Regions from separate parts of the Homo sapiens genome. Here region 2 is reported to be linked to region 1. Evidence: microRNA targets listed by miRTarBase, many of them from high-throughput screens and not tested one by one. Region 1 holds a microRNA gene; the other region holds the end of a gene's coding sequence.
Evidence for each region. The annotated mature microRNA hsa-miR-6761-5p reads UCUGAGAGAGCUCGAUGGCAG and lies in region 1 at 1,642-1,662, opposite strand. An mRNA with a match to its seed (bases 2 to 7 or 8) in the 3' UTR can be bound and repressed. Matches are read on the target gene's strand: a 7mer-m8 pairs with bases 2 to 8, a 7mer-A1 pairs with bases 2 to 7 and ends in A, and an 8mer does both.

Region 1 (5,076 bases):
TCTCAAACTCTTGACCTCAAGTGACCTACCCACCTCGGCTTCCCAAAGTGCTGGGATTACAGGCATGAGCCACCGCACCCAGACAGTCTGGGTTCTTTCACTCAATGTTATGTTCAAGATTAATCCATGCTATTGCATGCATGGCTACTGATATGGCTTGGCTTTGTCCCCACCCAAATCTCATCTTGAATTGTAGCTCCCACAATTCCCACGTGTTGTGGGAGGTAATTGAATCATGGGGCCAGGTCTTTCCCATGCTATTCTTGTGACAGTGAGTAAGTCTCACAAGATCTGATGGTTTTATAAAGGGGAGTTTCCCTGCACAAGTTCTCTTCTCTTGTCTGCCACCACGTGAGACATGCTTTTCACCTTTCACCATGATTGTGAGGCCTCCCCAGCCACGTGGAACTGTGTGAGTCCATTAAACCTCTTTCCTTTATAAATTACCCGGTCTCTGCAATGTCTTTACCAGCAGTGTGAGAACAGACTCATACAGCTACTTCATTCCTTTCTGTGGCTGAGCCACATTTCATTGCATGGACAGATCACATTCTGTATCCATTCATCTACAGACGGACATTTGGGTTGTGTTCACCTTTTGGCTGTTACAAATAATGCTGCTGTGAAGATTCATATACACGTTTTTATGTGGGAGCACGTTTTTCTTTCTCTTGGATAAATACCTAGGAGTGGAATTGCTGGGTCATATGGGGGCTTCATGTTTAACTTTTTGAGGAGCTCCCAAATTATTTTCCACAATGAGTGTGCCATTTTCCATTCCCATCAGCAACATAGGAGGGTTCCGATTTCTCCACATCCTTACCAATACTTTAAAATATATATACATATAGCCCAGCCTGGGCAACATGGCGAGATCTCATCTCTACAAAAAATAAAAATGTTTTTTAATTGTCCAGGTGTGGTGGTACACACCTGTGGTCCCAGCTACTCAGGAGGCAGAGGTGGGAGGATTGCTTGAGCCCAGGAGTTCAAGGCTGCAGTGAGCTATAATCGCACCCCACAGCACTTCAGCCTGGGTAGAATATTTTTTTCTGTCTGAAAAAATAAAACTAAAAATAAATAAATAATAAAAATATAGCCATCCTAGTGGGGGCTAAGTGTGAAGCAGAGGCTAAGCTTTTAGGATCAGTGTCACAATCATGGGTCCCTCTGCTCTGGTCTCCTGCCCTGAGGCAGCTGGGGAGGAGCCCCACCACTCCGCTGCCTGCCAAGTTCAGGTGCAGGGCCTTTGCACCACAGAGAAGCTTGATCCTTCGGAGGTGAGGTAGCAGGACCTCTCAAATCGACATCACACCCTGACCCAGGAGAAACTGAGCCCAGCTCCCCAAATTCCAGGATGGTGACCACCAGATTCCAGTAGGCCCTGGCTTTGAGGAATCTCTGTTGGGTTGTGAGGGGCTGCTGGGAGGCTCTTACCACACAGTGCCCGCCTGGAGGGCCTGGGACAGGTAATTGGCCTTGTCCAAATCCTTTGTGAAGACAGCTGCGGCCAGCCCGTACGTGGAATTGTTGGCTCTCCCAACAACCTCCTCTATGGTCTTGAACTTCAGGATCTGCATCACTGGCCCGAAGATCTGGAGTGAGAGAGCAGCGTAGGAGGGTTCGGCAACACGGAGGCACCTGCCATCGAGCTCTCTCAGAGCAGAACAGATGATTCCAGATTGGGGGATAAGCCCCCAGCCATGCTCTAACAGTTCCAGGGGAAGACAACAGCCATCAAGCTCAGCAGAACACAGAGGGAATGGAGCTAACAGGGGCCAACTTCCTCCTGTGCGCCCCGGGCTTTACATACAGTATCCCATTTCTAAACAATCCTGCCAGGTATGTTATTCACACGTGACACGTAGATTTAGTGTCAAAGAATTTAAGTCAGCTGGGCATTGTGGCTCATGCCTGTAATCCCAGCACTTTGGGAGGCCAAGGTGGGAGAACTGCTTGAGTCTAGGAGTTCGAGTCCAGCCTGGCAAACACAGAGAGACCCTGTCTTTACTCAAAAAAAAAAAAAAAATTTTTGGCCAGGCACGATGGCTCACACCTGTAATCCCAGCATTTTGGGAGGCTGAGGCAGGTGGATCACCTGAGGTCAGGAGTTGGAGACAAGCCTGGCCAACATGGTGAAACCCCATCTCTACTGAAAATAAGAAAAATTAGCTGGGCGTGGTGGTGTGCGCCTGTAATCCCAGCTACTAGTAGGGTCTGAGGCAGGAGAATCGCTTGAACCCGGGAGGCAGAGGTTGCAGTGAGCTGAGATTGCACCACTGCACTCCAGCCTGGCGACAGAGTGAGACTCCATCTCAAAACGAGAAGAGAAAAAATAAGCCGGGCGTGGTGGCTCATGCCTGTAATCCCAGCACTTTGGGAGGCCGAGGCAGGCAGATCACGAAGTCAGGAGTTCGAGACTAGTCTGATCAACATGGTGAAACCCTGTCTTTACTAAAAATACAAAAATTAGCCAGGCGTGGCTAAAACTGGAGACAGAGTCCCGCTCTGTTGCCTAGGCTGGAGTGCAGTGGCGCGATCTCGGCTCACTGAAACCTCTGCCTCCCAGGTTCAAGCGATTCTCCTGCCTCAGCCTCCAGAGTAGCTGGGATTTCAAGCAAGCGCCACCACGCAGGGCTAATTTTTTCTTATTTTTAATACAGACAGGGTTTTGCCATGTTGGCCAGGCTGGTCTCGAACTCATGACCTCAGGTGATCCACCCACTTCGGCCTCCCAAAGTGTTGGGATTACAGGCGTGAGCAACTGCACCCAGCCTGTACTAAAAAATTTTTTTAAAATTAGCCAGGCATGGTGGTGAGCACCTGTAGTCCCAGCTACTCAGAAGGCTGAGGTGGGAGGATCATTTGAGCCCAAGAGTTCAAGGCTATAAGGAGCCATGATTATGCCACTGCACTCCAGCCTGGGCAACAGAGCAAGAATCTGACTGAAAGAAAAAAGGTCATGGGAAGGAGCAGACAATGTCATTCCTAGACTCCTGGCTCTGAGGGCCAGGACACCAAGGCCTGCAGGCCATGCTGAGGAATGCAGACGATCTCCCAGACAGAGGGTACAAGCTGAAGAGGAGGGACAAGATCAGATACATACTATGAATAGCGTGTTATGGGCACTGGTTCTGGGTATAACTTGAGATCTGGCCCCAAGCCAGCAGATGGGTGACAGCATCAGGATGCCAGGCTGAACTGTTTACCTCACCTCCCGCCAAGAATGTTTCCAGAGCACTGGCCCCAAGTGCTCACCTCCTCCTTGGCGATGGTCATGCCATCCTGCACATCTCCAAACACAGTGGGCTGGATGAAGTAACCACGGTCAGCAGCAATGCCCCCACCACACAGCAGCTTCGCCCCCTCTTGCTTCCCCGTGTTGATGTAGCCGAGGATCTTCTTAAACTGAGTTTCATCCACCTGTGGGAGAAGGAACCCAGAGTTATGGAGACATCGGATTCAGACCTCTCCTAGGCTTCAGGCTTAGAATTATGCAGGCAACAAGACAACTGGGAAATGGACCAAGGTCATAAGAAAGCAAGATCAGAAGAGGAAACACACAGGGCCAATAGCAGAAAACACAAAAAAGGCCCAACTTCCTCAGCCTACCGGAGAAAAGGACATCAAATCAATCTTTACTTTTCAACTATAAGATTACCAAAAAGTTTAGGAAGAAAATACACTGATAGCAAGAGACCGTTACATATACTGTTAGAAGGATGACAGACTGGTACAGCCTTTAGAGCAAGTGGTTTATTAATATTGCTCAAAAATTATATACTCAGATCCTTTGGCCCAGCTATTTAACTTCTAGGAATTTATTCTACATATGCACAAAGAGAAATGAACAAGGATATTCACTAGGGAGTATTTTTTTTTTTTTGTATTTTTGTTTTTGAGATGGGGTCTCACTCTGTCACCCAGGCTGGAGTGCAGTGGTGCGATCTCCACTCACTGTAACCTCTGCCTCTCATGCTCAAATGATCCTCCCACCTCAGCCTCCCGAGTAGCTGGGACTATAGGCATGCACCCCTACGCTGGGCTAATTTTTGTATTTTTAGTAGAGACAGGGTTTTGCCTTGTAGCCCAGGCTGGGGGAGCATTTTGTAAAGGCAAAAGATGGAAACAATTCTAAGTATAAATCAGTAGAGGGGTTGGTTAAAATTATTACGGTGCATCCAGTATATTGTCATCACTAATAGATCTGTGAACTAACTGACACAGAAAGATGGCCCAAGATACTCTGTAAAAAGAAGGAAAGCTTGGGCCAGGGGCAGTGGCTCACGCCTGTAATCTCGGCACTTTGGGAGGACGAGGCAGGCAGATCATGAGGTCAGGAGTTCAAGACTAGCCTGGCCAACATAGTGAAACCCCGTCTCTACTAAAAATACAAAAATTAGCTGGGCATGGTGGCACATGCTGAGGCAGGAGAATCGCTTGAACCAGGGAGGTGGAGATTGCAGTAAGCCAAGATCGCGCTATTGCACTCCAGCTCTGGCAACAGAGACTTCGTCTCAAAAAAAAAAAAAAAAAGAAGTAAAGCTTGTAGAACAATATGCACTTATATACTCCTTTATAGGGTAGGGGAGAAGGGCGACAGGGTCTCACTCTATTGCCCAGTCTGAAGAGCAGTGGCACAATCACGGCTCACTGCAACTTCAATCTCCCTGAGCTCAGGTATCTTCTCATCTCAGTCTCCCGAGTAGCTGGACCACAGGTGTGTGCCACCACACCTGGGTAATTTTTATATTTTTAGTAGGGATGGGGTTTTGCTATGTTGCCCAGGCTAGTATCTAACTCCTGGGCTCAAGTAATTGACTCACCTTGGCCTCCCTCCCAAGTGTTAGGACTACAGGGGTTAGCCACCACACCCAGCCTATTTTTTAAAAAATAAACATACAACAGCATAACTGTGTGTGCATGAGTGGTTACCAATGGAGAATAAAAGAAATGCAACAAAGTCTTATTTTTTACATTAAATACCTTTTTTTAAAAAGAGTCAGGGCCTCACTCTGCCACTCAGGCAGCAGTGCAGTGGTGTGATCACTGCTCACTGCAGCCTTGACCTCCTGG
Region 2 (5,062 bases), not on the chromosome of region 1:
CAAAATCACCTGGGAAAATTTAGCCAATGATTCCTGGACCATAACTTTGGATATTCTCATTTAGTATGCTTGGGGTATTTTGAACAATTGCTGCCAACCCAATCTAGGCACAGCTAAGTTTGAGAACTATTGCTCAAGACAGCATGGAAGCTATCCGCAGAGAGAACTGTGGGTCTGTGTATCATATGTGTGCCCAGTATACTAAAGCCTCTGCATATTTTTTTTCATTGACAGCAAACTTGAAGAATTGGTCCATTTCTTACAAGTCATGTATCCCAAACTGTGTCAGCACTGGCAAGTGATCTGGATGATGGCTGCAGTGATGCTGGTCTTGACTGTTGTGCTGGGGCTCTACAATTCCTATAACTCTTGTGCAGAGCAGGCTGATGGGCCCCTTGGAAGATCCACTTGCTCGGCAGCCCAGAGGGACTCCTGGTGGAGCTCAGGACTCCAGCATGAGCAGCCTACAGAGCAGTAGGAAACCTCACACCTAGCCAGTGCCCTGCTCTGAGACACTCAGACTACCACCCTTTCCCCAAGTATAACGTCAGGCCCAAGTGTGGACACACTGCCGCCCATCCCATCAGGTCATGAGGAAGGGTTCTTTTAACACTCGGCACTTCTGTGGGAGCTATTCATACACAGTGACTTGATGTTCTTGGAGGATCAACAAAACTGCCCTGGGAAAGCATCCAGTGGATGAAGAAGTCACCTTCACCAAGGAACTCTATTGGAAGGGAAGGTCTCCTGCCCCTAGCTCAGGTGGCTGGGGAGAACTAAAACACCTTCACTGGTGGTTGGGGGTAAGGAGCGGGGCACGGGGGAGGAGGAGGTAGGGGGCAGTAAAAAACTTACTCTCTTTTTTCCTCTCTGTAATTGGTTATCAGGAAGAATTTGCTTAATGACTAACACCCTAAGCATCAGACCTGGAATTTGGAGTTGCAAAGTGACTATCTTCCCATTTCCCATCTCATTTTCAATAACTTCAGCCTCCCATTCTTTCCTTTGGAATGAGAGTTTCTTTTTACAGAAGTAGGAAAGGCTTCTCAGAAAAAAAAAAAAAAGTATAGGCTGAATTTAGCTCAGTGCTTGAAATGGGAAGATATGAATTATTATATACGCATCTGTCCACACATACACACATACTGTTGTGTACACACACACAACATGCCTGTGCACAGAGCCAACAACCCTTCAAAAGTGTGCTCTGGGTGTGTACCTCTGGATAAATAAGATGCATGCCAAGCCAACCCACAGATTTTCACCAGTGTGGGGCAGTCACCAGGCACCTGTTCAATGAGCTGTCCACATGGATTGAAGATGTTTTAAAAACACAGAAAACTCATGGCTTCAATGGCAGACTTACTAGTCTCCATTTCAAATGCCAACTCTGAGCTGCTGTACAGCACAATCTATTCCCTATTCTCTCTTTGAAAACAGTTAACCCACCTCACAGGTGAATGAGGAGAGAAGATGTGCTTTCTGCTTCAGTCTCTTACTCTGTGTGTGACCACATGCAAGAGTAAACTTGCACCTCAGTGCTTCAGTTCAAATGGGGTTTCCAACCCCAGTATAATTAGGGGTGTTTCAGAGCATCCCCAGTTATTTAGCACAACACTGAAGGAGCACATCCCCTCTCCATTTTGACTTCTCTCCCCACTTTTACAGCCACTGCCTTCATCAGTTTTGTAGAGGTTTGATTTCCATGTGGGTTTTGTTGTCATTGTTTTGCATTTTTGTTTTGTTATTGATATTGTTTGCTTTCATTGCTAAAACTCATATACGACTTACTATGAGCCAAGCACTGTTCTCAGTATTACATAGGTATGAATTCATTTAAGTCCTGAAGAAAAAGAAAAAAAAATACGAAGTGGATATTACCCTTCCCATTTTCAAATAAGGAAACTGAAGCACAAAAAGAACAAGTAACTTGACAAGGACACCCCGGTAGTAAATCATGGGGCTGGAGCTCAACCCCAGGGTAGGCTGGCTCCAGAGCTGTGCTCTCCTTGACTCTTCTGATGGTCTCCTAGCTGGAAGCCTCACATTTCAGTCTCATTCCCCCAAGTGGCCCATCAGCTACTCCATCTCTGGCTCCCCAACTAAACAGTTTCTCTCATAGTGCTGGACCTCCACTCACTAGTTTTTTTTCCAGCTGTTCTTCTCTTTTCTTCAGGTCACTCTTCTCGACCGAGTGCAAAAATTATCCCCTCCATACCAGCTTTGATGACCTTCCTTCCATACTCCTCACCAGACACAACATAATAGGTCACACACTCCTCTGTGCTTTCTGGCACGTTTTAAACATTATTATTATTGACCTTTACCTATAGTATACCATGGCCTATTTATGTATCCATCTCCCCTAGCATTTTTCCTCAAAGACAAGAACCATGTCTTACCCATCTCTTGGGTAAGTGCCTAGCATGGTGGCTGACGCTTGGGAGGGTGTCATTAAATGTTGCTCAAAAGAACAAGCAAACATTTAAGGTGGTGGAGAGCAGCCTGGGGACAGCTGACATGCTGCATGCTTCTCAGTACCAGCACCATCACAATGCAAAAAGCAACATCTTTCTTAACCTCAGCTTATTCTGTTTTTCAGTCTACTCTGTGAGAGAGCAGGAATGAGACCAGACTAGCAACACCATTGCCAAGCTCAAGGACTGGGCTCAATGCAGTCACTCCTTCAGAGAGACCCCCCACCCCAAGCATGCCCCACTTTAAAATAGCATGTTTATTGAAGGGGGCATCCTTTACAGTAGCTAGAAAATGACTGAGGCCCAAGCCAGGGTTGATCAAGGATGTGCCATTAAGGTAAAGAGTTACAGAGCAGGGCAGAGGGACTCTGGGGGCAGAAGTGGATGATTTGCCCGGCCTCTTCCAGGGGGTCTGGATACAACTGAAGGAGCTTTAGCTACATGAGGCCCTCAGAGCCAAAGACAGGATGCAAATAGAGTTCTAGAGAGTGGCCGTGGAAGCAGAACTCCAGGTGGGGAATGTTCAATCTCTGCCTCCCTTAAAGCAGGGCCAGGCTCAGCTGGCCCCATTGTTCACTTGGTCACAAGTTTCCTACCTTTGTTTCTGGATGAGTCAAAGGCCAGGAAGGCAGTTATGGAGAGCTCCTGCACCTCCAGCTGCCCCACAGAAAAGCCTGCAAGAGTACTTCCAGGCACAGGCCCTCTCCCACCCTATTCCATTTGTAAGCAAGGGAGGTCGAGGAAAAGGACATCTCCAAAAGGGAGCATAAGAATAGCCATATATACAGGGGCTGAAAAAGTGCTCATGAGTCCATCTTTTCTGGAAAGCAAAGACCAGCCTGAAGCAGTGGGAGCTGCTGCCCAAGCGGTAGTGAACTGGAGAGAAACAGGCCCTGGATTTTCAGTGAGGATGTGGATCTGAAGAGTCCCCCAAATGCCTCTGAAGTCTGACATCTCTGCTTAGCCCTAGGAGTCTGGTTCCCTGCCTTCAGTTGCAGAGTGATGTGTTTGTGTCATTGTTGATGTCACCTCCTAAAAAGACCTTCACTTTCTGGCTGCCACAAAGCCATATGTGTTGCTCCCCATATACAGCCTGACAGAGTAAATGGAGAGGAAGTGCTGGATTTGTGTATCACTGGCTATCAGTTCCTCATGTTGTTAAGCCTCACACAGGTGTGCTAGCATTGAACTGTAGAGTGTCACATACCTGAGTTTGAAAATAAAAGCACATTTCCAAACCTCTGGCAGCAGCCAAATGCCTCCTCATTTTATGGAGTTGAATTACAGTCTTACCCCAACCCAGAATTAGATGCCTTTGGATATATTAGTGCATTCCAGAACCAAGTCAGAGGTCCCCAACCCTTGGTCGTTATACTATGGGCTACCTCACAGGGGCTGGATCAGTTCCTCCTCTTCCCTTCCCCATTCCTGATCCTGGTTTCCTGTATCTTCCTGGTCTATGATTTTTTTAATTAACACAGTTTGCTGTGATTGAGTCTGCTGAGTTTTTAACCAACCTGATTTCCACAGCTGAACTATTTTTGTCTTTCTTACAGCTAGCTGCAGGGGAATGTGGACTTTCCAAATCTAGTTCCCTAAAAATAAACTCTCCTGCCCAATACTTCACACCTTTTTTTACTCCCTTCTCTGCCTACCAAAGCCAGAGGATTCAGATGAGAACACTGAGACCCGAGAAAATGGCAGAACCACTAGACGGAAGCTGGGTCTTTGAATGAGCACTCCCAGTATTGAACTGTGACATGAATAAGAAATAAGATTTTAGTATATTAAGCCACAGAGATTCCAGGATGTTTATAGCAGTTAGCCTACCCTAATGCATACATTTGAACCAGAAATTGTGTACTTTAATAGCAAAATTCCAAAATATGAGGTTCTAGCTTACCAGTTACATGGCAAGAAACAAAACTGCTAGAAAGATGGTAAGATAGTAAAGTCTTACCTGTGATAACTTGGAAAGCATCTCATGGTTAGCCTATTTATAAGTGGTGGAAAGAATCAGCGTTGGGGTATGGAAACTTCTCTTGGCTGCCTTTGGCAAGGTATGGCAGGAGAAATAATTGGCTATGTGGGAGCAAAAATGAAAAAGAATATAGAGTATTCAGAAATGTGAAAGATTGAAGGGTGAGAAAACCTGACCACTTCTAAATCCCAGACAGACTAAAAAGAGCTTTGAGTGGGAGCCAATAAAATTTCTCAGTTGAACAGATCGACTCAGCCTTATGGCAAAGGCTAGATTAAGGATGTGGCCCTTTGTGAGTTCAAATGAACTTAGTGTATTCACCACTAAATTTGAGGGGTATGGTGCTGAGAAACAGGAAATACTTCTTGAGAATTATGACTGGGAAAGGATTTGGGGTATGATTATTGGCACATGGAAGCAGAAATCTAACTTTGTGAGGGAATTTACAAAGAAACACAAGCCAGGACTAAAAACCCCTTTCATTGTTCAGGTGAGGAAACAGCTTTGAGGAGGAAAGAAAATATATCAGAGAGATACCTGCACCCTCATGTTTATTGCAGCAGTATTCACAATCGCCAAGATATGGTATTAAAATGTGTCCAGC

Region 2: the mRNA of IRAG1 is a reported target of hsa-miR-6761-5p. Seed matches in the 3' UTR shown: 7mer-A1 at 1,045-1,051.

Annotation. Positions count from the first base shown.
Region 1 is chr12:111,796,425-111,801,500 of GRCh38, reverse strand. It overlaps MIR6761 (microRNA 6761), which reads right to left and starts at 1,667; the gene lies at 1,596-1,667. It overlaps ALDH2 (aldehyde dehydrogenase 2 family member), which reads right to left. Exons shown (of 13, transcript NM_000690.4): 10 at 3,259-3,423; 11 at 1,438-1,595.
Region 2 is chr11:10,571,748-10,576,809 of GRCh38, reverse strand. It overlaps IRAG1 (inositol 1,4,5-triphosphate receptor associated 1), which reads left to right. Exons shown (of 21, transcript NM_130385.4): 21 at 235-3,715. The coding sequence ends at 478. All of the region lies in intron 1 of IRAG1-AS1 (IRAG1 antisense RNA 1), which reads right to left. Among named protein-coding and RNA genes, the nearest start is that of LYVE1, 5.6 kb to the right of the region's middle.